Regions from separate parts of the Homo sapiens genome. Here region 1 is linked to region 2. Evidence: fine-mapped expression QTL. A gene starts in region 2. The other region holds a variant in brackets. All regions are shown on one strand. Distances are between the middles of the regions. Region 1 overlaps PHACTR1 (phosphatase and actin regulator 1). Region 2 holds the start of PHACTR1 (phosphatase and actin regulator 1).

Region 1 (15,287 bases), 550 kb after region 2:
GTCTGATGGCCCATAGGAGTACAAGACAGCAGTTAGAAAGGTGGCCAGGAACTCAAAAATATGACTGGAGGTTTAGATTTTGGAATCATCAGCATATTGATGCTATTGGAAGTCATGAGTGTTGATGAGATCATCCAAGGAGCATGTGTGGCATCTGAACTGGTGGGATCTGGGTTAAATAGTTACTAAATGAGCATCTATTATGCTCTCTATGCTCTCTTAGGAACTGGGGATGTAGTAATAACCAAGGCCAGACAGAAATGCCCCAATCCTCATGGAACTCATAGGTTCTCAGGAGGAAGTTTCCAAAGGATGTAGAGGGGATAGAATTCAGTGCTTCTCCCTTTCCCCTGATCCCACCAAGCCCATCTACACTTCTGGATACCTGTTAGAAAACCCCATCTCCTCCTACTTTTGGAGAGAGGATCTTATTTTCTGTCATTCTCTGTGAGGACTTTTGCATTTCCTCTTTCCATCTGTCTGAAAATGCAGTTACCTTTCTCTGGTGCTGAGTTGCAGAAAACCCAAGTTAATTCTGTTTTTCCTTTGTCCTGAAATGCAGATACAGTTTCAGAGATCCAGACTTTAAAATCAAGGCCCTCAAAACAATAAGCAGTTGTAAATGCTAATGAAAGCTGTGACCTTGGTGTTCTGGAAACGGCAGAAAGCCCATTAGCTCTGTGCAGCACAACTAATCTCTGTCAGCCTCAACAAGTCAGACCAACAAAACCTACAAGGGTTTTGTCACTTCTCTAGGGAGATGCTGTAATGTGCAAAGACAATGCTGCCTGCTCTGCATACATTTAAAGCATCTTGCCACTACATTCTCTACCAGTCTTCTTTTTCCAAGGTCAAAACTGAAGTGTCCTTTATTTTGGGCTTTTAGTGTTTTTTTTTTTTTTTTTTTTTTTCAGTCTTTCCATGCAAAAAGAAAACTTCAATTTATTTGATTATTTCTTATGGTCACCAGTAGAGACAGCATTGTTCAGACTGAAAAAAAAAAAAAGGCAAGATCCATTCTTAAATTTTTAAAGAAAATAGAAGGCTCACATACAGCACTTGATAGCATGTGGCATTTAAACAGGAACCCAGAGATTTTTTCAGTTCACTGAATCATTTAGCCATAGTCCATGGTAAAGAAAAAACCATTTGAGGCATGGAAACCATTTTGCTGCTCAGACATATTTTATAAACCAGGGTCACATATATAGTAGCAAAGCTACTTAAGATCCCTTGAAAGTACATTAAACATTTAATTTTGGATGATTCATTTTATGTAAAAATTTATCTCCAAAAATCATTGCCTTTGACACCTAGCAAAGTGATCACGTTTAGATATACAGTCAGGAATTTTGTTTAATTTAATGTTAGTTTTAATCAGATACAACTAGTTAAATCTACTGGCAAGGTGGGAGCAAAGGAGATACAGTATATTCAGGAGGCATCTTGACTTTGATTCTTGGAGTTAGCAGCTCCTTGGGATGATTCATACAGGTGACCACGTCGTCGTGCTCTGCTGCTCAGCTTTCTATGTTAACCAGTACTTAAGAGATGCACCAGGTACATCGATCATAAAATGAGCCAAGCAGATGGCTGCTTTGCTTGGTGAAGATGGCAAGATGCCCTGGGTGTCCCCCGAAAATTTTGATGACTAGAATTCCAAAGCTGGAGCTTTATGCTTTGGGTTTGTGAATTTGTCTCTGATCAAAGACAAATCTCCCAGTGAATGGTAAAATTTTAAACTAAAATAAGTCATCTTCAGTGTATCTCAACTTGAAAGAATAAGCAAAAGCTATCAATTGGGAACTCTTCTATAATTCCAATACGGAACATTGCAAATCTACATGCAACCCACTCTGTCCTGCTTCCCTGCTGTCCCAGTAAAGAGCTGTTCTTCTTCCACTCAAAAATAATGCTACCTCCATCCCTTGGATCCCAAGCCCTCCTACCTTCTCAGGACTCATGCACTACCAATTGGGCCTTTCCCTTTTTATATATTCAGCTTCTCCCTCCACCCCCCACCATCTAATCTGGATTATTTCCATTAAACATGCCCCATTTTCATCCATTAAAAAAATAAAATTTGGGCTGGGTGTGGTGGCTCACACCTGTAATCCCAGCACTTTGGGAGGCTGAGGGTGGGTGGATCACCTGAGGTCAGGAGTTCGAGACCAGCCTGGCCAACATGGTGAAACCCCATCTCTACTAAAAATACAAAAATTAGCTGGTGTGGTGGCATGTGCCTGTAATCCCAGCTACTCGGGAGGCTGAGGCAGGAGAATCACTTGAACCTGGGAGGCAGAGGTTGCAGTGAGCCGAGTTTGCACCACTGCACTCCAGCCTGGGCCACAGAGTGAGCCCTCATCTGAGAAAAAAATACGATACAATTTGGCCAGGTGTGGTAGCTTATAACAGTAATCCCAGCACTTTGGGAGGCCAAGGCAGGAGGACAGCTTGAACCCAGGAGTTTGAGACTGGCCTGGGCAACACAGAAAGACCTCGTCTCTACCAAAAATTAAAAATTAGCTAGGTATGGTGGTGCATGCCTATAGTCCCAGCTGCTCAGGAGGCTGAGGTGAGAGGATTACTTGAGTCCGAGAGGTTGAGGCTGCAGTGAGCCAAGGTGGTGCCACTGCACTCCAGCTTGGGTGACCAGAGTGAGGCCCCATCTCTGAAAAAAAAAAAATAATAAAATAAAATAAATAAAATAAAATTCCACCACAGCCTCCTTCACTTCTACTTCTCTCACCCGCTTCAAAGCCAGGCTTCGTGGCTAAGTCCTCCAGCTTCGGTGCATCCATTTTTCCACCCCTGTCCTCAGCCCTCTCCAATCTGGCTTCTCTTCCTGCCACGCCACTGAAGGGGCTCTAGGTGTTGTCAGTAACAGCCTCCATGGTGCTAAACCCAGTGGGCATTTTTTTCAGGCCTCATCTAACCTTACAGCAGCTCTCAGAACTCTTTGTGGGCCATACCTATCATCTTACTGTTAACGAAAAGATTGACATGCAGGTCAAAGGCACTTATTTGGGAAGCAAAAATGGCAGCTGGGGTACACCGGATCAGGGCAGCCCTGAAGAGTGCCCTATAAGGCAGGCTGCAGGAGAGAATTTTTAAAATAGAGGATTGTCATAAAAAGTTATTTTCGGAAGTAGTTCATTGGCCAGGCAGAAATCCTAAATCACAAAGCCGTTGTGATTGGTTAGTTAATGAGAGTACTCTCAGCTGAGGTGTTGAAGGCCAGCAGATGCTGACTTCAGTTGTTTGACCGAGTCTATTGGAACATCCCCTGGGTTTGACCTTCAGCAGGTGTGAGTGCGATCCTCTTGCAACCTTCGACTCCACTTCAGAAAGCCTTAGCATTAGTTACTATATTTTCTTTCCCATTACGTTGCTTCCATGATATGACATTTTAGTCCTCATCCTACCTCCAAGAACTCCCCTCCCCAGAATCCATGGCAGGGTCATCCTCCTTAGTCCATGCATTAAATACTGGAATTCGGCAAAGTTCCATCCTAAGCCCTCGCCTCTTCCCATTCTCTACTCTCTCCATACTCATGGCTTCAAATATTGTCTATATTGCAGACTAGTCTCAGATTTCTATCACTGGCCTAGTCCTCTCCTCTCCACTGAGCTAAATGTATCCTGCTGCCTACATGACAGCTTCATTCATATGTCTCAGGAGCATTCTGATGTAACAGATCCAAATTCAAATTCATGGTTTTCTTCCACTCTTCCTTCACAAACACGCTGGTTCTCTTGCAGTGTGCCTGCCTCAGTGAACAGCATTCCCATCCATCTAGTTGCATGAGTTAGAAAACCTAAGGAGATATCCTGTACACCTGCTTCTTCCTGTCCATTCACATATGCTACCTGACTTCCTAAGAGCTTGCACATCACTGCCACAGCCTCGCCCAAGCCTCCACCATTTCTTACCAGGTGTGCCAAGCCTCCCAAAGCCTCTGCTCGGGTTTCCTCTTGCCTCCCCCAATCCCTTCTCCATATAATAACCAGCATGATCTCTTTCCACTGTAAGTCTGATCATTTCATTCACTCCTCCCCTCTCACACCCTAAAACTTAAACTCTTCAACGGCTTCACATTGCTCCTAGAAAAAGAAGATCTAAGTCCCGGAAGCATCTGTATTAGGCCATTCCCACACTGCTGTGAAGAAATACCTGAGACTGGGTAGTTTATAACGAAAAGAGGTTTAATTGGCTCACAGTTCTGCAGGCTGCACAGGAAGCATGATGCTGGCATCTGCCTCTGGTGAGGCCTCAGGAAGCTTCCAATCATGGTGGAAAACAGAGGGAAAGCAAGGAGTCTCACATTGGAGGAGCAGGAGCAAGAGGGAAGGGTGCTACACACTTTTAAACAACCAGATCTCGCGAGAATGCACTCAACTCACTAGAACAGCACCAAGTGGTTGGTACTAAACCGTTCATGAAAAACTACCCCCATGATCCAATCATGTCCCACCAGGCTCCACCTCCAACACTGGGGACTACAATTCAACATGTGATTGGCAGGGACACAGATCCAAATCACACCCACGGCATCTGGCCCCTGCCCTCCTTCCCACCAATCTTCTCTCCTTACTCTCTGCCCAGAAGGAGCATCCTTCTTCCATCCCTGAGCTCTGGGCACAGTGTCACTTCCTCCTGGAAGCCTTTCCTGACCTCCTGATTTGGTCAGATCCAGAGATCCCTGCACCAAGTGCCTCACCATGGAAGCCCTTACTCCAGCTACATTTTGCACTCATTTCTGTGACTGTTTGATTAATGGCTACCCCCATCCTCTTCCAGTCTTCTCTGTTCCAGAAGGGCAGGGACTGGTTTTGCTCATCACTGTACTCTGGTACCTAATGTAGAACCTGACACAGCACTGGCACTAATAAGTAACTTGCTAAATGAATGAATGGGTTTACATTTGAATGTAACTGAGTCTGTGGCACCCATTTCTAAAACAGGTCTTGATAGGAATGAGATAGAGCAAGAGTGATAACATAATTCTAGGAACTCGAGAGGGGAGGACTCCAGGGAATAGAGTCAATGCAGAACCACAGACACTTTATCTTCTTCACAGTTTTGCCTTGTGCCCAGTGAGCCCCACTTCCATGTGGCTGCTGAATGGTTTTTTTCTGACTCACCTCTTGCTGGCCAACTGAGATGCTGCAAGAATGTACAGTGCCTTCTACATGGGCAGTGAAAGTCTAAGTCACGCCCAACTTGCTTGTTGTTTTGAGGATATTTTATTACATGCCAGTCCTTGGAAACTGTTGATCCAGTTTTACCTTGCACATTGTAATCACAGATGTGCACCTCTAGGCTGTGAGCCGCTTAAGAATGTGTCTGGCCCTTCATGTGGCCCGTGGTTCATGTTGGGTAGATTAGCAGATGAAAGACTTAGGAAAACAAAAATTGGAATTCTTATCATTTGATCTCAGCCAGCGTCTCAAACTCAGAGGCCCTCGGGGGTCCAGGAATGATCTGAAAAAAAAAAAAAAAAAAAAAAAAAAAAAAAAAAGCAGGACAGATGTGAGCGTGCTCACCTGTATTACATAAGTGAGGCCTGGGGAGAGGGCTAATTTGATCACACACTCTGTCTAAAGGCATTCAGGCTCAAAAAAAGTATAACCAGCTGGGCTCAGTGGCTCACACCTGTAATCTCAGCACTCTGGGAGGCCGAGGTGGGTGGATCACCTGAGGTCAGGAGTTTGAGACTAGCCTGGCCAACGTGGTGAAACCGCATGTCTACTAAAAATACAAAAATTAGCTGGGCGTGGTGGCACACACCTGTAATCCCAGCTACTCGGGAAGCTGAGGCAGGAGAATCGCTTGAACCTGGGAGGTGGAGGTTGCAGTGAGCTGAGATTGTGCCACTGCACTCCAGCGTGGGTGACAGGGCAAGACTCTGTCTCAAAAAAGAGAAAAAAGTGTAACCTCTGAGCATGCCAAAGAGAACTGATAGAGTCAAATCCAGTGCACCAGGCATCAGTTTGCAACCTCTGACTAGTAAAGTATCATAGTTATGGCAGACAAAATATTGGCCACCCTTCCACAAGATGTCCACATCCTCATCCCCAGATCTATGAATATGTAACGTCCCAGGGCAAAGGAGACTTTGCAACTGGAATTCAGTTAAAAATCTTAAGATAAAGATTAAATGAACTAACATATGTACAGTGCTTGGAACCATACCCTTACATTATAGGCATTAAATCAGCCTTAGCTTATTAAACTAGTATTTATGATTTGCAGAGAAAAGAGCATAGGCCTAGCAGGATCTGATACCTTGTCTGAGGTAAATAGGTTCAGAGCAGAGCCTGGACTAGAACCCAAACCTCCTAGCTCCTGAGCTACTTAGTGCTTTGTCCTTACAATGCCACCATATCATTTTCCTCCCAAATCTCATTTTCAAGGTCAAAACAACTAACTATAGCACAGGCCCTTCTGGCGGGCTCAGCTGCATGTTATAGCTATGATTAGTCTTGATGTTCTCAGTCGCTTTCCAGAGAAATGAAACACAAACAGAGGAACTCATTTGAAATTATGAGTGTTTGACTATAAAGCAGCCTAGTTAATAACAGAATTTTCTCTGATCAGAGTCTAGTCACTCAGTTTTGCCCCCTCCAAATATGACCACCCATAAAAAAAAGGGGAGGCCACCACAGAGCCAGTTGTCATGTTCACTAATGAGATCAATGGGATGGCACCGTCAAAGCTGATGAGGGAACAATGTAGTCTGCAGACACTTCGCATAAGACTCCAAAACACTGGCCTGATCTCCAAATGTAGGCGCCACCCACATTTACAAGGCTTTCTCAAAACATTCTGCCCCCAAAACTTAGCTTGACTTAAAGCCTGGGTATTACCAAACCATTCCATAAAAGTGGCTGCGCATCTCTTATAAAAGCAGCAAGTATTTTTAGGGAAAATAAACTGGCAGGTGAGAAAGAGCTGTTAAGATCTTTCAACGTGGAGTTGGTAAGCTGCATTCCAGACCTCTGACACCGGCTCACTCAGTTGCATAATCATCGCTTTCCTCCTGCAGCGTGAGAATGCTATTTTAGAAAGAATTCAAAGACTACTGCATCCAAATTTAGACCCCCTAATATTGTGAATTTCCAAATACACAGCTGGCCCTTGTCAATGGGGATGAAAAATGTCTTAATGGGATTGCAAAGAGAAAAAACAAACTTTGACTGGGAGCAGTGGCTCATGCCTGTAATCCCAGCACTTTGGGAGGCTGAAGCAGGTGGATCACCTAAGGTCAGGAGTTCAAGACCAGCCTGGCCAACATGGTGAAACCCTGTCTCTACTGAAAATACAAAAAACTAGCACGGGGCATGGTGGCACGCACCTGTAATCCCAGCTACTCAGGAGGCTGAGGCAGGAGAATCGCTTGAACCCGAGAGGCAGAGGTTGCAGTGAGCTGAGATCGCACCACTGCACTCCAGCCTGGGCAAAAAAAGCTAAACTCTGTCTCAAAAAAAGAAAAAAACAAACTTTTTTTCACTCTACTCTCACACTTAACACACTTCTGTGACCCCACACATTTCTGTGTGAGGCAGCTCCCCACACACCAAGCAATTCTCCAGCAGACATGAACTGGACATCCTGTAATTCAATTTGATTCTGACCCTTTCTACTGGGACAGTGTCAGATCACACAGGTTAAGGACTCAGTCCCACAGAACTGCCCCCACTTCAGATGCCAATACCAAGTCATAGGTTGTCACCTATATTATGACCCACTAGCTGTAAACTGGGGTTCTCACAACTCCCTCTTTGTGTTCAAA[T/C]AATTTGCTAAGACAGCTCACAGAACTCAGGGAAACACTTACTTTACCAGTTTCTTACAGAGGTTACAGATGAACAGCCAGATGAAGAGATGGACAGGGCAAGGTATTGGGGGAGAGAGGCAGAGCTTCTGTGCACTCTCTGGGTGCCACCCTCCCAACAGTGCCCCCCAGCCCCATGGTCAGCAACCTGGAAGCTCATCTAATCTTGTGGTTTAAGAGTTTCCATAGAACTTCACCTCCAGCCCCCCACCCTCCTGCTTCCCAGCTGAAAGCTCCAGGCCTCTAACTATGTGTTCTTTCTGGTGGCCAGCCCCATCCTAAGTCACCTAATTAGCACAAACTCTGGTGTAATCCAAAGGGACTCATTCCAAGTAACAAAATACACTCCTGACACCCCAGAAATTCCAGGGGTTTTAGGTGCTCTGTGATAGGAACTGGGTCAAAGATAAATATGTTTTATATTATACCACAGGGATATTTTGAAAAGGAATAATAAATATGAAAATGTTCTTATACTCTTAAAAACACTTTGGAATGCAATTTCCAACAGTTTCAGGGTGCTATAGGCTTTATAAGCAGGTATATGACCAAAAATCCTTTCTCTGACATTGTATTAGGCCATTCTTGCATTACTATAAAGGAATACCTGAGACTGTGTAATTTATAAATAAAAGAGGTTTAATTGGCTCATGGTTCTGCAGGCTATACAGGCAGCATGGCCCTGGCATTTGCTTGACTTCTAGGGAGGCCTCAGGAAACTTCCAATCATGGAGGAAGGTGAAGGAGAAGAAGGCACATCACATGGCAAAAGCAGGAGCAAGAGAGAGAGAGAGAGTGAGCAGGGAGTTGCCACATGCTTTTTTTTTTTCTTTTTTTTTTTTTGAGACAGTCTCACTTTGTCACCCAGGCTGGAGTGCAGTGGCGCAATGTCGGCTCACTGCAACCTCCACCTCCCAGGTTCAAGCGATTCTCCTGCCTCAGCCTCCCAAGTAGCTAGGATTACAGGCATGTGCCACCATGCCCGGCTAATTTTTGTATTTTTAATAGAGACGGGGTTTCGCCACAAAGTTTTAAATGACCAGATCTTGCAAGAACTCACTGTCAAGAAGCTAGGACCAAGCCATGAGGGCTCCCCATCCAAGCACCTTGCACCAGGCCTCCCCCCGAGCAATGGGGATTACCATTCAACATGAGATTTGGGCAGCGACAAATATCCAAACTATATGAGACATTGAAGCCCATTCCCTATATAGGATGTGTGGTGGTGACACGGGAATGTCACAGAAGCAATTGATTCTGGCCCAGCACAATAAACAAAAACACAAATGACAACAAGCTTTGAATTAAAAATATAGTCCTTTCTGGGAGATTGATTCCAGGACTCCCTTGGATACCAAAATCCAAGGAAGCTCAAGTCCCTTGTATAAAATGGCGTAGTATTTGCAAAAAACTATGTGTATCCTCCCATATCCTTTAAATCATCTCTAAATTACTTATATCTAATACAAGATAAATGCTATATCAATAATTTTAGACTATTGTTTTTTGTTTGTTTTTTTTTTTAATATTTTCCGTCAGCAGTTGGTAGAACCGAAGAATGTGGAACTCATGGACACAGAGGACCAACTGTAGTTAGGTTTGGAGACTTCATTGACTTGATATTTTCACTCTAGGATCTCTCTTTAGATTTCAAGATGTGAACATCTTGCCGACTATAGACACCAGTTTCTAATACCCAAGGAGGGACTGCAACTTCCTCAACTAGGAGAGCATCATTTCTACCCCTTAGATCCCAATAGAGGAGTCTGAGAAGCCTAAAATTTCTTCTACAATGATTCAGTTTCTCACACACCTCATCCCAATGGGTGAAGTGGAATGCCGGATAATTGCAGGTTGTTAAATAATTACCAAAAGCTTCAAAGGTACAGATGTCTCTGTTCCTGCTCAGGCTCCTGAGTCCGTGTCAGTCATTCCTGGGACCTAATGCAGGCATTCTCCCCTCAGATGCCATGCCCGTTCCCTGGCTACTTCTGTCACTACGTGCCATCCACTGCCTGTCCCGCCTCCACCCATTGCGTCATTGCAGGCTCATGCCCTGGCTATGATGTTTCATGTACGGTGGCTAAATTTCACGCCTGGCCACAGAAGTATCATTTCTGTGCCTTTGCCACTCATGTCTTCTAAGCCTCCGAAATAAGAGGAGCAGGACCAGAAGAAGAGCAGCCATTGTTCTCTGCAGACAGACACATTCTCTCACATGTCCCCGGGGCCACAGACCTCTTTATGTTCTAACTGGGTCTGCACAGAAGAGGCAGGAGACAGGCTTTAGCCTCAAGGGAGGGAGAGAGAGGCAAGAGGCCACAGTCCCCAAGTTAGGAGGCCACAAGGAAAGAAAAGGACTTCTGTGAAGAAAAGAGTCCCGTCTGAGTTGCAGTCCACTTGCCTGGGGCCACTGGAGGAGATGGGGCTGGGGAGGGGCCGCTGCAGGGAGGAGGGCGGGGGTCAGCGGCTGTGACATGACGCACGTGCCTCTCCTGGGCTTGAAATTGAGGAACTGAGGAGGCGGTGGTGGCGAGAGTCAGTCTTTCAGAGCACAGGATGGAACAAGAACTCCAGCCACTGACTGTCTCATGTATCTGCAAGGGCCGAGGAAATTAATGACCCAAGGAGGCTATGATATGGTCCAAAAACTTTTCCTGGATTTTTTCCGTAGGCGGCTGAGCCAGAGGCCAACTGCAGAGGAACTGGAACAGAGGAACATTTTGAAACGTAAGTGACTAAGCCCATGGCAATCCCTGATGTTTTGTGGCGGCTTTTGTTATTATTTAATGGTAGGCCACAAGGTTTCTACCTTGCGCCTCTGCGGAAAGCATTGAAAACCTTTCTAACGGTTGAAGCTTCATGTGTGCATGTTAGAACACCAAAGACGACCTCCCCAAAGAGAAGGCAAATTTTATTCCACTTTATTCTTTAGAAGCTCACGGGCGGCAGGCAGAACCTTCCTTTTAGTGAGTTGTAAAGTCAGAGAGAAGCTGAAAAATTAGAGTGAGACCACTTATTATTTAATGATTTTTAAGAGCAGGGTCACCTTTAAACCAGAATTGGCTTGAAAATGGAGACTGTGATATGCACGGCTAAAATAAGGGAAATGTCCATTTGAACTGAGACTAGAAAGCATGACTTTGCATTGCAGCTGGCTGCTGTTGATAAAAATCCCTCATCCCTTTGAATGTTAAATTGAAAGACTAAGAAAGCATTTCCAAGTGAAGTGCTTCATGTCTGTCTCTCAGGATTCCCACAGCTGGTCCCGGGCATGCCTGTCTGATGCTCTCATTCGAGGAAAACTGCCTTTCACCATTGCTGCAGACAGAAAAAAATAAATGAGCCCCTTGTTTGGTTTAGGACACAGAGACATTTGAATATGTACAGAGGATCCACTTGGTGCTTTAAAAAAAAAAAGAGAAAACAGGATACAAAATACTAAAAGAGATCAAGCATTTGATGGACAGCAGTATGCGTCAGTTTAGTGGTAGATATTAAATAACTTAAATATCAAACCATTCTATTCATTCATTGCTACCATTCTCGCCAACACTGGCCTCAAGATAGTGAACAAATATTTCTGGCTTAATTCATGACCCTGTTCCCCCTACCCCACAACACACTTCTAATTTCTCTCCAGAAGAGAAAGATATATACTATGCAGAGTTTTCTAGAAATGCTATGTTGTACAGACTGACTCCTTGCCTCCCCCGGCCCCCCCGCCCCGCCCCGCCCCGTGCCCAGTAAATCACATGCAACCGCAGTGTGAGTTTGCCGGGAATTTCCACTGAAACCACACTAAGATATTCTTGACTTTACCTTTCTACCGTGCTCACTGTGGCCTTGTGACTTGGTCGGCATTTCGTAGTCTGCTGAAGGTGGGTGCTGGGTTCCGCTTTGGTGGGGAGACCTGTTGCCTACAGCACCCACCCCCGCCCGACGCCCCCGCATGTCCGTTTATGTCAACTCTGCCTTTATCAATGTCTTGCCTCCCGTCCCCACGCCAGCCGCCACTTCCTCAACTCTCAGTAGAAGTTATTTTCAGGATTAGCCTTCCTCAGTCGTGGGGGAACCCTACGCTTTGCCTAGGTCTCTAGGAATGTGTGTTTACTTTTTTCTGCCCAAGGGGTACCCTTTAAAGTTTCCAAGCTTAATATTCTATATAATGAATTCAGAGCTTTTTCAAAGCATTTCCAAGGTCAGGGAAGCATTTGGCTTGTAGGATGTCTTCCTTTCGGCCCCAATCTGGTACCTGAGCCATTATAAACTTCCCATTGTTGGAGAGAAAGATAAACAGCCAGGTGAACCTGTACAACTTACTCACAGCCCGCTGCTGTACTTGTGGCCTCTGACCTGAGACCTAAACTCAAAGAAGCTAAAAGCCTCCGGGGGATTATTTAGGTTTCAGAAAATAGTGCTTATCACACCAGGAGTACGGTTTCTGGAGAGATCTAAAATCCCCTAGCTCAGCTCTGGGCTCTCTCAAAGATATCAGATCCCCGCTGTGGCTTGTCCAGATCCCTGGGAGACTACAGGTCCTTTGAGCTTGGGTTTTTACCGCCATCAACCAGGGAACTTAGATTCAGGGGACCAAAAAGGAGTTGTGAAAGATTGTTCCCATGGTTCTCTTTTATTCTCTTCCCTAATCCCTCTTGTCCTGGCCACATAGTTGCAAATTAAAGAACTACTTGACCAATTCTAACAGGTTGGTCATTTCATAGTTTTGAAACTTTTCAGAAATCAACTTGTTTTCCCATAGGTTCTTATTTTTCCCTGTATTCTGGAACTATGTTCTCCTAAATATTTTTTTAAATTTAATCTATTGCGATTGTTAAACAAAAAAAATGTCTAGTGGTATAAGAAAACATCCTCCAATAGTTTGTTTTAAAACTGATTTTCTGAGCTTTCAGCCATTTGAGGAACTGCTCGGTGTTGGGTGGTGGGGAACAGGGCACAGAGATGCCATGGCTCAGCCCTGGAGCTTTGAGAGCCTTGGGTTGGTTTCCAGCCCCACCCTGCCTGGTCCTGGGAGCAGCCCCTGTTCTGTCCAGCAGCCAGTGAGGCCCTGTGCACCTCTGAGCACATAATGAACCCTCTGACGGTGGCAGCTGTAATGACGACATCGTAGGCCTTTCCTGGCCTGTCTTCCTAGTTGCCTAATGGGGTTGTCTTGGTACCTTCTGCCTGAAAATTCATGAACCTGGGTTGGTCAATGGCTTTGAACTAAAGGTATCAATTCTGTAGGTGGTAGCTTGTGGCCCCACCCCTCAGAGTGACCTAAGAAACGCACATAGGAGATGAAGGCTCCATGCTGTGTCAGCTGTGTCACAGGATGCCCGCCTTCACGGCTCTGAAGGGACCTGTAGGATCAGAAGTCTGAGGCTAGTAATGAGGAGGAGAGCCGGCCCCACACAAAACATGACCACAGGAAAAAACCTATCTGTGTAACCACTGAGCCAGGTAGGGTGTGACTGGCCACTTAACACCCCTGAGGCTTCAGATCCTCAGTTATAAACCAGGAGTGGTAGACGAGGTGGTCACTAGGTCCCCTCATGGCCCTAGTATTCTGTGCTTCTGTAAATTTTCACCGTGTGCCCTCTAGCTGTCCCTGGTGACCCAACATCCAGACCACCTTTTCTTCCATCCGTTTTCCCACCTGAGACATCGCAAAATGGGAGTTCCCTCCTTCTGGTTCTTGCTGTCTGCCTCCCCATTTAACTCTGCTAGATTAATTCATACTAAGATATTAATGGCTGACTAGTTTAATAGGTTTTATCCCACTGAAATTTGCATTTGTACAAATGTCACTGTCTGGGGGCTCCCTACTTCCGGGTGTTGCTGTCTGCCCCCCAGTTTATCTCTACTAGATTAATTCATACTGAGCTATTAATGGCTGACTAGTTTAATGGGCTTTTATTCAAGAGAAATTTGCATTAAAAAAAAAAAAAACCTCTCCGGGAGGGAGATAGGATCTCTAAATCCAAAGGAAAGCACACTCATGGTGACGGTTTCAGGCACTGTAGGGTAGGCTGGAGCAGGGACCTCTGGTGACCTCAGCCCACAGCAAGATGTGGCTGTTTCTTGTGCTGCCTTTCTACAAAGCCTTATGCCCACAGGCGGTTGGGGGGCCAAATCAGGCCCGTGGGGGTGGCCCTCAAGGGCCTGATTTCTGCTCTGACCTTACACCACTTGTGCTAGTGGGAGGTATAGTCACCTTGAGTGTAAAGGTGACACAGTTATCAGATGGTCCCCACCCCTTTCTAGGCACAGGGGGTTTCCTTCCTTTAAAGACCTGTCCCAAGGCCGGGCGCGGTGGCTCACGCCTATAATCCCAGCACTCTGGGAGGCTGAGGCGGGTGGATCACCTGAGGTCAGGAGTTCGAGACCAGTCTGGCCAATATGGTGAAACCCCATCTCTACTAAAAATACAAAAATTAGCTGGGTGTGGTGGTGGGCACCTGTAATCCCAGCTACTCGGGAGGCTGAGGCAGGAGAATCGCTTGAACTTGGGAGGTGGAGTTTGCAGTGAGCCGAGATCATGCCACTGCACTCCAGCCTGGGCAACAGAGCAAGACTCCATCTCAAAAAAATAAAAAATTAAAAAAATTTAAAAAATAAAATAAAGACCTGTCCCATACTGAGACAATCAGCAACCATACCTGAATTGCATGTGTGCACCAATACAACAAACTAATGAAGTTACCAAAATATAATTCAACAACTGTGATTTTCAAAATGAGCCAACTAGTGTCCCAGGCAGTCGTGATGCACCCTATGCCAAAATCAACGTGTTTCCTTTTACTAACGCCATTTGAAATTTAACGGCTGAGAATCACAGGCCTTCTTTGATACAAGCTGACTTCCATAGTTTTTCCAAGTCCAACAATGCTACGCTGATATCTGTGCTTCCACAGATATCAAGGAATTCTTCCAAGGTTCAGAAGGGAAATGGTCTACCCCAGGTCATCCAGTTAGCTTAAAAGGAGAAATAAGCCCAGATTCTCTGCCCTTCAAGTATCTGCCCCCTACCCCAGACTCTCCCATGTACAGCTATTTAAAAATCTGATGAGTAAATCACCCATATATTAAGGCAAGAGCTTTCAGGCTCTGCAGTCTACTCTTCTGAGCCACTCCTAAAGAGTCTACATGCAGGCAATTGTATCCCACACTCTGGCCTCACCCATGCTCTGTGGACTTCATGGAAGATTCAAACAATCGATGGAATCAGGGCTTGTGAAAGGTGAGCGTTTTGAAATTCCTCCTGCCTTGTCTTGTTCCTGCAGCAGGTTGAGGGCAGTCTTCTGCTCTCTCTACACCCACAGGGCACCAGACACAAGGACTATACCACAATGAGCCTCCTTCAGTGTCTGGGAGGCTCAACAAAGAATGAGTGAGCCCCAGTCTTATCCAAAGAAAGGAGCCTCACATCTCCCCAAATGCCTGTGTGTC
Region 2 (15,287 bases):
TATATCGTGTCATTTAATTTGGCTGAGGAAAGAGAAGATGAACTCATGAAAATTCTGCTCTAGTTTGTCATTCACTGTTGCAAACTTCGCTCAGGAAAGCAGGATAGCAAAAAGAATAACAGATGTCCTTTTGGTGAAGATGTCTTGGCATGGGTCCTCAATGCTTTCCTACTTTATATGGCCCACCAGGAAAAAAAAAATGTGCCTTGAAGCACTCTCTGTGAAGAAAAATAATGATAATATCTAACACTCCTTGGGTGTGTACGAGGAGCCAGGCACCACTCCAGCTGCTTCACACATATTAACTCATTTAATCTTCATGTATACATACATAGTTAACTACAACATACGTTAGAGATATAGACAAAATACTACCGAATTTCAGAGGACTAAGAGCTTATTTGCAATTGGAGTGATGGAGGCAATGTCTCAACATATTAGATGGATACAGTTGGAGTGGATGGGAAGGGGTGCTCTATTCCCTCAACTCCTTGCATACATGTAGGCTGTTCAAAAATTATTGTTAAATACTACCTATGTATTTCCTGTGTTCAGGCTCTGCGTTGTCTCATTTGGCCCTGATTTTTATTCCTCTGCTAGAGATGGAAACTGAGACCCAAGGAGATTAGCGTGCAAGGTTCTGCTACAGAACTAGGATCCTCTAGATGATATTTTTAACTACTTCACGCATTGTCTCCTGAATGATTAGCTAACATTTCTTTGGTGCTCATTATACAGCAATGAGTGTTTTGAGGCTAAATATGACAGATTATTTTTCTTTCATTTACTGATAATGTTTATGATATATTAAAATGCAGTGAATACCAACAAGGTTCTCTTTGTTTCAGAAAAGACAAATAAAGGCATTCCTCTTAGGAGAGAGGAGTTGAGTCTTCCGTTATCTTTAATCCACGAGGAGCAGAGAATTATGATTTGGAAACTTAATTCCTGTGATATGATACCCTTCAATGCCTTCAGGTGACAGATCCTAAAAGCATTTACCTTTGAACAACAAATTAAACTGGGGACTATGTCATGAATAATAATAATTGTTTGTTATACAAAGATATGCATCAAATGTCTTTGCACATATACATAAGAAAAACATTAAGTGTTAATATTTAAGCATACAGACTTTGCTGTAGAATGTGTCAGTGTATTTTAAAGCTAAAAGGAATGAGTCACCTAAGTCCATTACTATTTAGATACGACCCACACTGCCTCCCTCCCTGTGAGCTCTCACTGCTATGTTCAGTCCTATTTGTTCAATGTGCTTTGGAGGCTCAAGGGCCATATCATTAACGTAGGGTCTATTAGACTTGTGGCTCTTAGAGATTATTGTTCTTTCTTTCTTGAATATGTGTTTGGATATTTTCAGGGTTGCTATCTGGATTTTTAGGGGGACTAGGAAAAGGCTAGTCCTCCCACTAGGGAACTTGTGACTAATTTGTCAGCCTTCTCCAGGAGAGTTGAAAATAAATCACACACACACAGAGAGGGGGAGAGTAAGGAAAGAAAGAGAGAGAGAGAGAGAGAGAGAGAGAGAGAATGAAAGAATTGAGGGCAATGTGATTTTCTTGCCAGAGGGAATAAGTCAAATATCATTATTATGTATCCTAAAATTCATGTAAAAAAATTACTATTGTCAATGTACTTCTCCATCATTGGGTGGTCATCTTAACGTCTTCATATTTAGATATTTGACAGTTATAGTAAGTAGAGAGTTGCTAGAGAACTTCTTGTTTCCTTACTCAACATTTCCCCCTTCCCCTATTTCCAGATGAACGACCTGGGCACAGAGATGGGGACTGAATCTGACTATTTTTTTCTCTGAAACAAAAAGATTTTCATATTATAAGTAAGATCAACTTACTAGAATCCAGTTGGCAGAAGGGTAAGATGACATATGAACTCTTGTTCTTTCCTCTCTCAACTGACCTTTCTAAAAAGTATTAACAGAAGGGAAAGGATATTTTCAGAAGTGGGCAGCAAGTGAGGCCAATGGATGTCCTCTGCCTGGCCCTGGCCCCACCATATTGTCCAGTGTGCACCTCATCCAGCGTGGCTGTCTCCAGGGCAGTTTCAAGAGCAGAGGGCTTTGTGGTTTTGGTGTGAAGACTTTTCCTGCTAACTGAGGATGGCCCAAGGGGAAACTCCTTTGGCACAACGTTCTTGAATAGAATTAATGAATCCACCTCTGAATCTATAAGGCAGCTTTGGCCCTGGTTCAAATGAAGATGCTAACAAATTTAATGCCCTTTTCTAACAGCAGAGTACCAGGTATCTTAAACTTAAGGAAGCCCTCAAAACATGACTGTAGGCTTATACGGAATAGAATTAAGGTCTCTTCCCTGAGACTTCTTTCTCCACACAGTTTCCCAGTCTTCCCAGCCTTCTTTAGCTTTCTAAGTATCATCAAAACTTATTCACGAGAAAGAACTGAAAGTTCAATTACTCTAAAGCCAAAATAACTGATGATGGCTTAACATGTTTTCTCTGCCATCAAGATTTCAATATGAATAAAGCCTTAGATAAAATACTTGCAGTACCCCTATCAATTAATGACAAACTTTATAAAGAAAGGAAAGGAGGCCACACCTGTAATCCCAGCACTTTGGGAGGCTGAGATAGGAGAATCAATTGAGGTCAGGGGTTCTAGACCAGCCTGGGCAATATAGCAAGACCCCGTTACTATTAATTTTTTTAATGAAAGAAAAAAAAAGGAAAGAAATTTCTTTCGAGGGAGGGGTTGGGAGGTAAAGTGACTTATCAAGCAGAGGGAGCCACTGCTATTGAAACATTCTGGGGTCAGGTCTTTGCAAAAATGAATGAATATTGTTTTCTGTGGTTGTCTAGCACGCTAGCACTTCAACAAAGATTATTAATCTAGGTACCAAACCAACAGATCCAACATATCATCACACTTTAAGAAAGTCTCTAATATTTTAAAGTTAAAGTTAGTTGGGTTTATTAGCAGAAAAAGAATCTTCTCCAGGATGTCATTTAAGTAGAAGGCCAGACCTCAATAGTCCAACACAAATATAAAACATGGTCTTCTAGGGAGCTCTGGAATATAAGGTAATTAAACAAGGAAAATTCATTGTAAAATTATAAATAAGAAGAACTGCTTTATCTCTTAGCAAAGAGGATAAACCCAGGCTGGTTCCAATGGAAGTCAACAGCATAATGTAAAAAGAGCAAGTTACCTACTTACAAATCATGTGATCTCTCCTGGAATGTTTGGGTCTTTTGCCATCTAACACAATAAATAAGCACACCCCCAAAATAAATACAAGCTTATATCTTTACTTGCCTCTAGATTCCATCATGAAGCATACCTCTGTTTTGAATTAATTGAATACATCTGCTTGTGTATAGAATACTCACATATGTATCCTCTTCCAACCAAACTAAAAACAAAAAAGTATGTATCTCTCTACCATCTCACATATTTTTAATAATTCTAGATTATTTGTTTCAACCTTACAGTTCTACACTTTCATATTTTAATGCCATCAATGTAAAACATATGACTTGATTTTGGAATTTTTAAAATAATATTTTATTTCTAGGTCATAGAGATATTTTAACACTGAATTAAGTTTTGCAGAGCTGAAATCTTGAGAATGTTTTGGGTTGGATTGTTCAGTGCCGAATACGTGTTAGCTTGAATACTTGATGTAACCTTGCCTTCCTCTCTGATTATTTCTCAGAACAATAGACCATTATAAGTGTTGTTTTGGAGCAGTTTAAAGTTACAAAACAGAATTGAGCTAATCAGATTTTGACATTGGCTTTTGAACATTACTATGCTTTACCATATTTAAAAATAATTTTTGAACACACACACACACACCTATATGTAATCTATAGCTATATTCCCCAGAGAGTGAGATCATTTTTTGAAAATCTATTACAGAAGTTGGTCATATGATGCTACAGAACACAGTGATAATTATTTAGTAAAAGTAAGTCCCTGTTTGCAAATGAATAATCATCCCCTTCCCAAATACATTTCTTTCTTTGTTTCTTTCTTTTTTTTTTTTGAGATAGAGTCTTGCTCTGTCACCCAGGCTGGAGTGCAATGGCATGATCTCAGCTCACTGCAACCTCCACCTCCCAGGTTCAAGCGATTCTCCTGTTCAGCCTCCCAAGTAGCTGGAATTACAGGTACCCAACACCATGCCTGGCTAATTTTTTATATTTTTAGTAGAGATGGGGTTTCACCATGTTGGCCAGGCTGGTCTTGAACTCCTAACCTCAGGTGATCCACCCACCTTGACTTCCCATAGTGCTGGGATTACAGACATGAGCCTCTGTGCCCGGCCCCAAATACATTTCTTTAAGTTGAAATTTTCCCTCCTGAGTTTTCTTAAATTACGACCCTTTCATATTATTTGTTCACTTTGTAAAGTATTTTAAATTTCTCTTTCTTGGTCAACTCTCCAGAAATGACTGACTTCCAAATCCACCACCTACCCCCTGGGAATCAACTCTATTTTTCACATTTCCAGTTTAGCATCTCTTTCTTCAATCACACATTCATTTGCACTCACCTAAAGGTTTGGTCAGCAGCATAGACTTATACTCTCTCTCTCTCTCTTTCTCTCATCTATGAGTCATTACAATTTCAGTAGAATTACAATAACGAGTTCAGAACCTGTCGCCCACACCTCACAGTAAGTAAAAGGAACCAGAAGACAGCTTTCTCCTCTTATAAATGTCAAGTGTTCAGCATGTCTCCAGTGGGTGCTGAATAGAAAAGTAACCTTAAAGAAGTCAGTCCTTGGGTTGGAGCAAAGCTTTCAGAATTCAGAGTCCATAGTTGACTTTCCTACAAGGGCATATGATTGGTAGTTTCAGCTTCCTTTTTCATGAGGCTTAACTGTCTGCAGCACCGGCTTGGTGTCTGATCTGTTCTGATCGGGTGGGAGAGGGAGACCCCACAAAACAAACAGCAGAGGATTTTCAGGTTTGTTTCAAGGGCAGCCAGCCGAGCTGTGTATAGGGAGTGGGGGGACAGGGGTGGTGTTGATGGTCTTCCTTCCGAGGCTTATCAAATGTAAATGCTCTTTTCTTAACAAGCTGACCCACTGTACACCACACCATACTAATGAGCAATTCTGCTTGGTCAACAAAGGGTGCAAGAGGTTGTGGAAAACCCACAGTAGGGCTTGCATTTGGCTATCACTATGCCCTGCATGAAGATCTCAAAGTACTGTGCCTAAAAGTCATTACTGAGGTTTGGTAGGAAGAATATTAAACCAGAATAACTTGAGATACTAGCCAAAGTTTATTTTTGTTGTTGGTATTATTTTGTTACATTCAGACAGAGAGAAATGCATTTAGGCAGACTGGCATGATCTGCGCTGGATATTTGACCAGGCAATCAGAAGCAAGGAAAGGAAGAAAGCCAGGCAAGAGGGAAGGGGTGACATCAAACGTGCCCTCTGTATTTCGCTCCAGAAAACAGCTCACAATTATGACTACCTGCCTTGTTTTGCAGCTCAGCATAAAAGTGGTGTTGCACCAAACCCTACTGGAGCAGCCTTCATGATTAGAAAGTACTCCACACCTTGGAGAGCTGAGGAGACATGAGAATAATTTTAAATGCAAATTAAATTGAGGGGGTAGCAGAGAAGAACACATAAAAGACAGTAAAACAAAACCTTTCAATTTTCTTAAATTAGCAGTCTAATGTGTTCTAAAGAGCAGCTCCACTCAGATCTCTTCTTAAGGGTTGCATTTCATCACAGTATAAATGGGCAAATCCATCACTTCCCTCTGCTCAGTGCTCTTGAAGCGAGATTGAAGGGAAAATTAGAAGCTGTTCATTTGTGCTTGCGGGCTCAGAAGCGTCGCACTGCTTTGTTTTGTACTCTACCGTGTCCTGTTGAAAGGGGTCAACAAGTGCCGGTGAGTATCCGCTAACTTCCAGACTCTTCCTTTCAAATATCTTTTTGGCTAATTTTCCTTTGCCGGGGATGGGGGTTGTGGGGGGAGTGGGGATCTCCCACAAAATCTATGCTATAATATGTCTTTCAGAATCTGGGAAATTTCAGACAGCTTTTTAAGCTTCTTCCAGTGACTGATTTGCAGAAGGGAAGAGTTATTTTCAGCCTAGATGCCGGTGGCTGTTCTGTGTATTAATTATAACAGGGGAATGTCTAACGTATGTTAAGCTAAAATGGCCTTTCCCTAAACTCCCCCATTCCCTGCCACTCTTAGGCCAGCATTAGGGTAATAACTGGTGCCCCCACAAAAATTTCTAGACAACTTTTCTATATATTAAATTTTTAATCATTTCATATTCTATTCTTTTGTAGCTGCAAATCAAACTAAGATTTGGGATTATGAAAATAAACAATGAAGACATAAATCTGTTTTGTTTTTTTTTTAATGACTATGGCACTTCTCTGCCTAAGAGATAGGGGGCTGGGGAATAGCCCTGCATGATGTATGCATGTGGATTTGATGATTTTCTGCCAAAGTTTTACACGGGAAACTGGTAATTTTCTCCCTTCGCAGGGGAGGGTGCAGAGGCTGAGGCTGGCGTCACCTTCCGTTGCTAAGGTAACGTGCTCTGGCCATTTTATCTGATAAAGGAAGTCCAGTGGACTGTATGCATTATTCATCACTGTTCTAATCAAACAATCAAAATCGTTTACTTTCACCGGGAATATTTAGCAAGATCAAAGACACTCTGGCTGGAACGGCTCTTGTTTTACCGCTGACAGATAGCCTTTGATTTTTATTTTTTGCAGTAAGTATATTTGCTATTGGGGTACCTTTGGGTATTTTTAAAAGTTTTGTCTTACCGGACTTGGTTTCTTAAATTAAAATACATACTGTTAGAAAGAGAAACCAATTGGATTAGACTTCCAAGCTTGGTTTTAATGACTTTGTCTTGTTAATTCTTTCCAAAAAAATATTCTGCAGAAATAGAGATAATTCATTTGTGTGAGTATCAGGGAAAGGCTACATAGGCTTGAAAAAAGAACCCAACAGGCTGAATGTTTTCTGGGGAAGTATATTAGCTTTGTGACAGGCTAGTGTATGATAATATAGGGATCACTGTAATGCTGCAATCATTCTTGCTGCTCTACAAACCACAATTGTTTCTCAAAAATCAGCCCCTGCCAGGCACAGGCAGGTGACGATCCTCTAGCACTTTATAAAATGTGCTGAAGGGAATCGCCGGAAAGGAAGGAATTCAAAGCATTTGTACAGCAAATATGTCAGTGTGTGTCATAAACGCACGGCATCTATGAGTGGAGGCTCGGATTCCCAGGCAATTTTCCCTGCTCCAGGGGAATCCGAAAGTCCCAGGATGAGCTGAGGATCAACACTCACAACGGCTGACACTTAATGACGCTATTTATCAAATAGACCTTTTGAAAACTGATAGCATGTGAATTTAACAGTATATGTTCCAGAGAATATAAAGCAAGGAAAGGCTGGTATGTTATCTCTCTTTAGATCAGATCATCTGTTTTTCCTGAGTAGAATATATTACTTTTAATGAATGTTGGCTAAATGCGGCATTTTCTCACACGGTAGGAAAGCTATGCTGGGGGGTGGCTTTAGAATTGCAAATGTCAATCAAGTAGTAGAATATTATAATGGGATATTCTTATTCAAACATTTTAAAGTACATCTATATATACACTTTATACTTGACGTCTAAAATATTGTGGATTTTTTTTTCCTCTTTATAGGTGTTCCAGTGTTTTCTCTCAAAACTCTGTGTTTGGAACATCAAGGATGGATTATCCCAAAATGGATTATTTTCTGGATGTAGAGTCTGCTCACAGACTCTTGGATGTTGAGTCAGCTCAAAGATTCTTCTACAGTCAAGGAGCTCAAGGTAATAAAATAAGAAAAAGAAATTCCTCTTATTTGCACGTCGGTTTTATATGAACAGCCATGTAGGCTGTAGCTGTTAAAGCCTTGCTCTGAAAGTTTAATAACCGGTATTTCTAAGTTGATAACCTCTACCAAACTGCTGCTGGAATTGAGGCAGGTATATAATAGAATAAATAAATCCACACTTCTTGGATGTGGTTAAAAAAATGCCCAACTTTTGGTGTAAGTGCCCCTCAGAAAGCTATGTTAGAAATGATTTCCTACCACCTGTGTCCAACACTTATGTCCAAAAAGAATCAAGAATGCTCTTCCCCTTGGAGAATTTCCAGTTTGCAGCCACAGCTCTTGAAATCTTAGGGCATCATGACCCAGTGGACTGGAATCCAGCAGGATTAGGGGCTCTTGAGAGAAGCGCTGAGCTTCTCTATAGCTGCCTTCTCTATTTTAGCTGAATTCAGTTACCGCCTCAGATAATTACTAGTGTACATTCAGGGAGCAAGCCTCTTGGGAAGTGTGGTTGATGTGTCCGTTTTTATTACATGTTTCAAGATGGTCAGTTAGGTTCCAGTTTTCTTGCCCTTCTGTTGGGGTATTTAGAATGTTTTTCCACCACATTAAAGAAGAAGCTGGAGTGTTATATGGGATCTCGTGACTAGGAGGAGATTTTTTTTTTCACATATTTTCTGTTTTCCATGAAATGTTTAAGGTGTTCAGTCAAAGCAACCTGATGATGGGCATGTCCCAAATGATACAGGTGATGCATTGAGAAGGAGGACAATGTCCCTATTTTAAAATAGAAAAGCAGTTGAATTCTTAGAAGTCACAAAGCAGAGCTGAGAAGATAATGCAGTCAGTTTTTATAATTCTGGCATCTTTCACTTTAGATGGTGATGGGAACTTTACACACGCCACTGATAATATCCTGTCTGGGCTTTCCCAAGTGGTCCTCTGAATTGCTTTTACCTCCCTCTCAAGCCAACTTATCGTGGTAACCTCAGGGGGCTTGCAAGCCATCTCCTTCTCTGCTTTCATTTCTCAGAGCATGACCCAGTCTTCTTAAAGTCAAGAGGGGTTGGAAATGGTCTGGTTGATTTGCTGAGGTCTGTGTGCTCAACAGCAGAGCTGAAATTAGCAGAAGTGATGTAATAGCAAACTCTCCTCAAACTTCTGGGTGTATGGAGTCAACATGGCTGTTCCCAGCCACTTAAAGACACATAAAAATGTGAGTGAAGAAGGAAAAGAGTGAGAGACTGGCCAGGACCTCCAACCTCTTCTGGGTCTGCAAGTAAGAAAATGCTGGAAGTAGAGGTAGAATGGAGGTTGGAAGGGGGTGGGGGATGAAGTTAGGCTCAATTCCTTCTCCAGTCTCAAGGTCACACATTGCTATGTGATTGGTCCATTCGACTGGAATGAGACAATAATGCTCCGTAGCGGGGTCATCCCGCTGAACCGCATAGCTGTTGGCAAAACAGAAAGGGGGGCAGCAGTTAATTATAGAGAATAAAGATGCCCATTTTGTCTTGCTGTGGGGATGCTTTAAGCCTTTAAGAAGACCGTGGGCTCCAAGATCTTACGGAAGGAAAGCAGGCAGTGTGTGGGAGGCTCGGGAGGACTCAAGGCAGCCTTCTGGTTTTCAGCAGATGGAGCTGGGGGTGGAGTGGTCAGAATTGTCACCATCAGTGACTGTGGTTTAGACACCGGAGCTGGAAGGACTAGAAAATGCATGGGAGGTGGCAGCATAAGCTACTGTTGCTCCCTGGAGTCATGTTCGTATTAGAGTAATCAGATGATGTTTCAATCAAGGATTCCTGGATTTGCAGGAGGGGCGGGGGTTCCCGCACACATTGTCTAGGTCAGTGTTTCAAAACCCCCAGTCTTCCTGAACCAGATATCCTGGTGTAAGGCCTGTGAATTTGCATTTTAAGCAAGAGCTCCAGGGATGGCTACCTAGCCAGTTCATCAGTCTAGGGACAGTATTTACGAACCAGTCCACCTAATCCCGTTTTCTCCTCTTCCACCTCACAACAGGAACATTGTACTCAACACTAGAGGCAGGATGACATAGTGGTTGCAGGCTCCTCTGCAAAATGCAAACAGTAATAGTTCCTAATTCACAGGTTGTTAAGAGCATTAATGAGGTAAGATTTTAAAGGGCTTAAAACAGTGTCTGCCACATAAGAAATGCTACACACGAGCAAATCAATAAAGTAAAAATCCCAGCAAAAGCCCATCCTCTTCTGTTTAAAACTTCATAATGGGCCTGGCACAGTGGCTCACGCCTGTAATCCCAACACTTTGGGAAGCCGAGGCGGGTGGATCACTGGAGGTCAGGAGTTCGAGACCAGCCTGACCAACATGGTGAAACCCTGTCTCTACTAAAAATACAAAAATTAGCCAGGCGCAGTGGCATGCCTGTAATCCCAGCTACTCGGGAGGCTAAGGTAGGAGAATCGCTTGAACCTGGGAGGCGGAGGTTGCAGTGAGTGGGGGTGGCACCACTGCACTCTAGCCTGGGTGACAGAGTGAGATTCTGTCAAAAAAAAAAACTTCACAATGAAGCCACTGCCTTGCAAACAAGAAATGTGGCCTGATAAAAGTTAAAAAGTTAAACCTATTTCTAGCAACAACCACAAAAAATAGAAATTTTAAATACATTTAAAAATGCAGTGATTCATTTCTTGTCCTGTCAAAACCCAACTCAGGGCATAACTGAAAAATAGCTCATCTTGCTGCTCTCCATCTGTCTTGTCCTTCATTTCACTTTAAAGATGAGAGTCCCTCTCCCTCCAACACCTTCCCTAGATCCCCAGCACACAGGACCTATCACCTTGGGAGGCTCCTTTCTCAAGTTCTGCTTTTACCATTACTTGGGGCTTGGCACTGCATTGCATGGGTTCCTCCACTGTAGCTTCCCTCCCCTTTGCACAGATTCCACAGTCTGTCCTGGACAACCAGCACCCCTTAGGCCTAATAAAGGAACAGTGAATGGGTGAAGGCCTGAGTACCATGGCCGGCACCCTTCCCATCCAAACCAGATGCACACATTGGCCGGATTCAAGCTTGTATCGAACCAACGGCAAGGCTCCGAGGACCAGTGAAGGAGGGCAAGCTGGCGGCCAGCTCTTGAGAAACACATTTGAGACAATTAGGGTCTCATGCTATTGCTGAATCACTCCACCACATGGCAGTTCTCTATTTGGCCAGTCCAGCCAGTGCAGAGGATATTAGTAAGGCCAAGTAGCCCCAATTTGATTACTTCTTCTAAAAAGAAGGCCAACTTGAAAGTACAGTATGGGGTTAAGTATATAAAACTTGGGTGACCTAAGGCTTGGTTGGCTAAACTGTTGTGTGATTATTGCATTTTTGAGTAGTCTATTCTCACTGTCATGCAGATATTTCTATAGACTGATCAAGTGTTCTTACAGATGTAAATGTTTTTAAAGGGAAAAGCAAGAAAATCTGAGTTCCCCTCTCTCATTTCCCACATGACAGCCTCATATCAATTTATTTACAAACTCATAAAGTTCCAGGAAGATAACACCTTCTGTATTAGTCATGTGCAAAATCTTTATCCAAAGCAACAATGCCAGAATTATGTTTTTGATCCACACAGAGTTGTTTCTTTTAGATTTTTCTTGGAAAGTGGCAATAGCCTTCCCTTGAATAGAGGACGTTTTAGCTAGTTAAAGCAAGAGGAATCCAGGAGGGTGAGAAGAAAAAGAAGGAAAAAGGCAATTTATCATGAGAAAAATTCTTTTGGAATTCCCTGAGATTTTCAAAGGTGCCTGATCTATTCTTCTGAATAAAGAACCTGTTATCTTCTCCCACCTCCATTTTCCCCTGGTTGGACCTCAAGGTGGGGGAGATCAGCTGCCTCTCTCATGATTCTGCTTTAGAAGGTATGATGTGTTGCAGAGAGCAGAAAATGTACAGGGTCCTCCTGTTTGCCTCCTGTCAGTGAAGGAGGCTCTCTTGATTAACTAGTGAGTCGTTTGCCAATGGTAAATCCTAACACGAAGGGAGTTCTGCGGAAGTCCCCTTTAACTGAAAAGGAGAACTCCAGAGGTTAGAGATACACATGGCTTCAAATATCATGTCTTGGCATCACATAATTTGAGCTCATCTGTGTTTCAGGTTTCTGACAATGCTACCCCACACACTCAACTTCAGACTCTGTAATTTTGTAGTGAACAATTGAACTTGAAGAGAAGACATATTATAAAATCACAAAATTAACATCATGAGATTTTTAGGTTAAAATGGACATTATAGGCCAGGGACTGTCTTAGGTCTCTTCCTAAGCCAAGAGAAACAGACCCTGGGAGGGCCAGCCCCAGGCTCCAGTGCCATTTTTTCAACTAGCCCATGGGTTTTTATGATGAATACTGGAGCTTGAGAACCACCATTATGGATCGTCAGTCACTTGCTACCCAGAGTGTGATCCCAGACTGACAGCACCAGCTTCATTCATTCGTCTGGGGCTTGTTAGGAATGTAGCATCTCAGGCCCCACCCTAGACCTAGAGAATCAGAATCTGCATTTTAACAAAATCTCCAGGTAATTTATATTAAAGTTTGAGAAGCAACAGTTGAATTCAGTGCACATTACAAACACCACCTGGAATCCTTGTTTTGGCCTTTTCTTTTTTTTTTTTTTTTTGAGAGAGAGAGAGGGGTCTGGCTCTGTCATCTCAGGCTAAAGTACAGTGACAGGATCATAGCTCACTGCAGCCTCAAACGCCTGGGCTCAAGCAATCCTCCAGCCTCATTCTCCCAAGTACCTGTAGGCACATGCCACCATGCCTGGCTAATTTCTTAAGTTTTACAGACAGAATCTTGCTATGTTTCCCAGGCTGGTCTTAAACTCCTGGCCTCAAGCAGTCCTCCCACCTCAGCCTCCCAAAATGCTGGGATTATAGGCCACACCTGGGAGATTTCACAACCTAAATGCTAGAGTCCACTATGGACCAATTAAATCAGAATCTCTGGGGATAAGCCCCACACACGGTAATCTTTTAAACTGCCCCCACGAGATTCAAATGTGGAGCCAGGGCTGACAACTACTGACCTTTGTTTCATAGTAAAAGGTTTCAGCATCATGCAGCTATTCTTCCCCGAATAACTTTCTCTATCTAGGTCTTCCACTTTAAATGAATTTGAACCATGGGGAAGATGCAAATGGACTTTTAAAAAGCACTATGGGCTGGCGCAGTGGCTCACACCTGTAATCCCAGCACTTTGGGAGGCCAAGGCAGGCAGATCGCCTGAGGTCAGGAGTTCGAGACCAATCTAGCCAACATGGTGAAACCTGTCCCTACTAAAAATACGAAAGTTAGCTGGGTGTGGTGGTGGGCACCTGTAATCCCAGCTACTCAGGAGACTGAGGCAGGAGAATCACTTGGACCCAGGAGGCAGAGGTTGCAGTGAACCGAGATCGCACCATTGCACTCCAGCCTGGGTGACAGAGCGAGACTCCATCTCAAAAAATAAATAAATATATAAAAATAAAAATAAAAATGACTTTGTATCAAGGGCTGCCCCTTGTATATTCATTGTATCTGTTAACCCTCAAAGGAACTTTGGGAAGCGGGAATCCTATGCTCATGTTGCAGACTAGAAAACCGAAGACTGATGAGGTGAAGTATCTTGAAAGGGCTGTACATTTAGACAACAGCAGAGTCAGAGTTTTCATTCAAACATATCCATCTCCAAAGCCCAAGCTATTTTGTTTAAGCTGTCTCATGCTGCTTGCCAGGCAGAGGCAACCTCTCATCTAGTTAGACTGATCAAATCAACCCCGCAGATCAGCAAAGGTAACTTCCCTGACCAAACCACACTTCCAGGGATGGTCAAGCTGTGGCTCAGAGTCATTCTGCTGGGAACTCAAATCACACAGCTTAAAAGAGGACAGCAGAGACAGAACCAGATATCATTTTATCACATCCATACCCTGTCCACTGTGTGAGGTTTCTTTTCTCAAAAACCATCAATATACTCGGACATTCAAATTACCTTCTAAAGGGAAAATACATTAAAAGGCAGCCAAATGACAAAAGTCACTAGGCAATCCTAGTGACTCCTGCTAATGATTTCCCCTCTTTTATCATTTAAAATAACACTCGGCATTAGAACCAGGCTCAGTCGTCACTGTTACTTGTCATAATGCACCTTTTCTGTCATCTACATTGTCTTGTTCAAAAAAGGGAAATGCCAGTTTTGACAACTGATGAATGCCACAGTGAGCAGCTAAGAGTCTCTTTAAGTTGTTTTTGGAAATACAGAGGAATTCATCCAAACCCCGTCTCTCCCCTCACGCCTCCACCCACCTCCACTCTTTGCCCACTCTGTGAAATCGGTCAGAGCAGCTGACTTTTGAGTCTTCAGCTTTGAGTTAAATATACTCTAAACCTGACTCTAAACCTCTAGGACTTCAAACATGGCCCCAAGAGACAAAGACATTTGGTAGCACTCCATTAGTTCAAAATCAGGAACAGTAGTAACAAACACAAAACATGCTCATACTATTTCCTTTGCTGTGCTTACAGGGAGACCCAGCCCCATTGTCACCTCCCCTGTGAAGCTTTGCTTAACTTTCCCAGGCCTTCCTCCCATTGCCTATACTACAGCTGTTCACGCCTACACTACAGCCATTGTCATCATCTATGATTCTGCCTCCACCACCTGCTAGATGCATGAGCTCATATAAATGGCTTTACTTCTTTAAACCTCAGATTCCTCATCAAAATAGATATAATGCTAGCTCTGAATCCGCAGGAGACTTTGGGAATTAAGTGAGGTATGCCTATAAAGTGTCTAGTACCTTGTCTATTGTTATTGATTAGTTATTGATACTCTTGTTTTACGATTACTTAAGTGTCTGTGACTTACCTCAATCACAGTGATCTCCTTAAATAGCATCTTCTTGGTGCTTAATATCATCCTTCTTATACAGTAGAAGCACTAACATTTATTAAATGTCTCTATTGAACTGATGGGGTGAGAATGCTTAAATCTACACTATAAAAAGAATTTTTAAAAAAATTTTTATATTTTTAACATTTTTATGGGTACATAGTATAAAGATACATTTTAGACTCCAGGAAAGGGTGTGATTATTCAAGATTTAGAAAATAGAACCTCCTAACACTTTTAAAGAATTAAAATCTTTAGTTGAAAATGGAGCCTGCATAAGACTGAAGGGAAGGACATGCAAAAATAATATTCAAATACATAGAGATATAGGCAATGGAAGCAAGTCATCAACTCTGCTGTATCTCATATAAGAAGAAATTAAACAAAAGTAAGAATATACAGCAGGGAAATTTAGGTCTATTATTGAAAAAAATCAATCTTTTAAAATAGACTTCCAGGGATCCCTGAGTAGTATTCTTCTGAAAAGGGCTTTTTGATATAGAATAGTCT

The links. PIP is the estimated chance that this variant, and not a neighbour inherited with it, causes the effect.
Region 1: its variant is fine-mapped to the expression of PHACTR1 in whole blood (INTERVAL, PIP 0.94).

What each region holds. Positions count from the first base shown.
Region 1 is chr6:13,262,351-13,277,637 of GRCh38, forward strand. It overlaps PHACTR1 (phosphatase and actin regulator 1), which reads left to right. Exons shown (of 15, transcript NM_030948.6): 11 at 10,510-10,565. TBC1D7-LOC100130357 (TBC1D7-LOC100130357 readthrough) reads right to left here. Exons shown (of 9, transcript NM_001318809.2): 9 at 4,186-5,485. It also overlaps a transcript of LOC100130357 not described here. Among named protein-coding and RNA genes, the nearest start is that of TBC1D7, 59 kb to the right of the region's middle. RefSeq lists enhancers at 10,130-10,229, 10,941-12,140. The variant T/C (reference allele first, on the strand shown) is at 7,797.
Region 2 is chr6:12,710,981-12,726,267 of GRCh38, forward strand. It overlaps PHACTR1 (phosphatase and actin regulator 1), which reads left to right and starts at 5,787. Exons shown (of 15, transcript NM_030948.6): 1 at 5,787-5,916; 2 at 6,529-6,763; 3 at 7,719-7,867. The coding sequence starts at 7,765. The region is part of intron 1 of LOC107984015 (a long non-coding RNA gene); the gene reads right to left.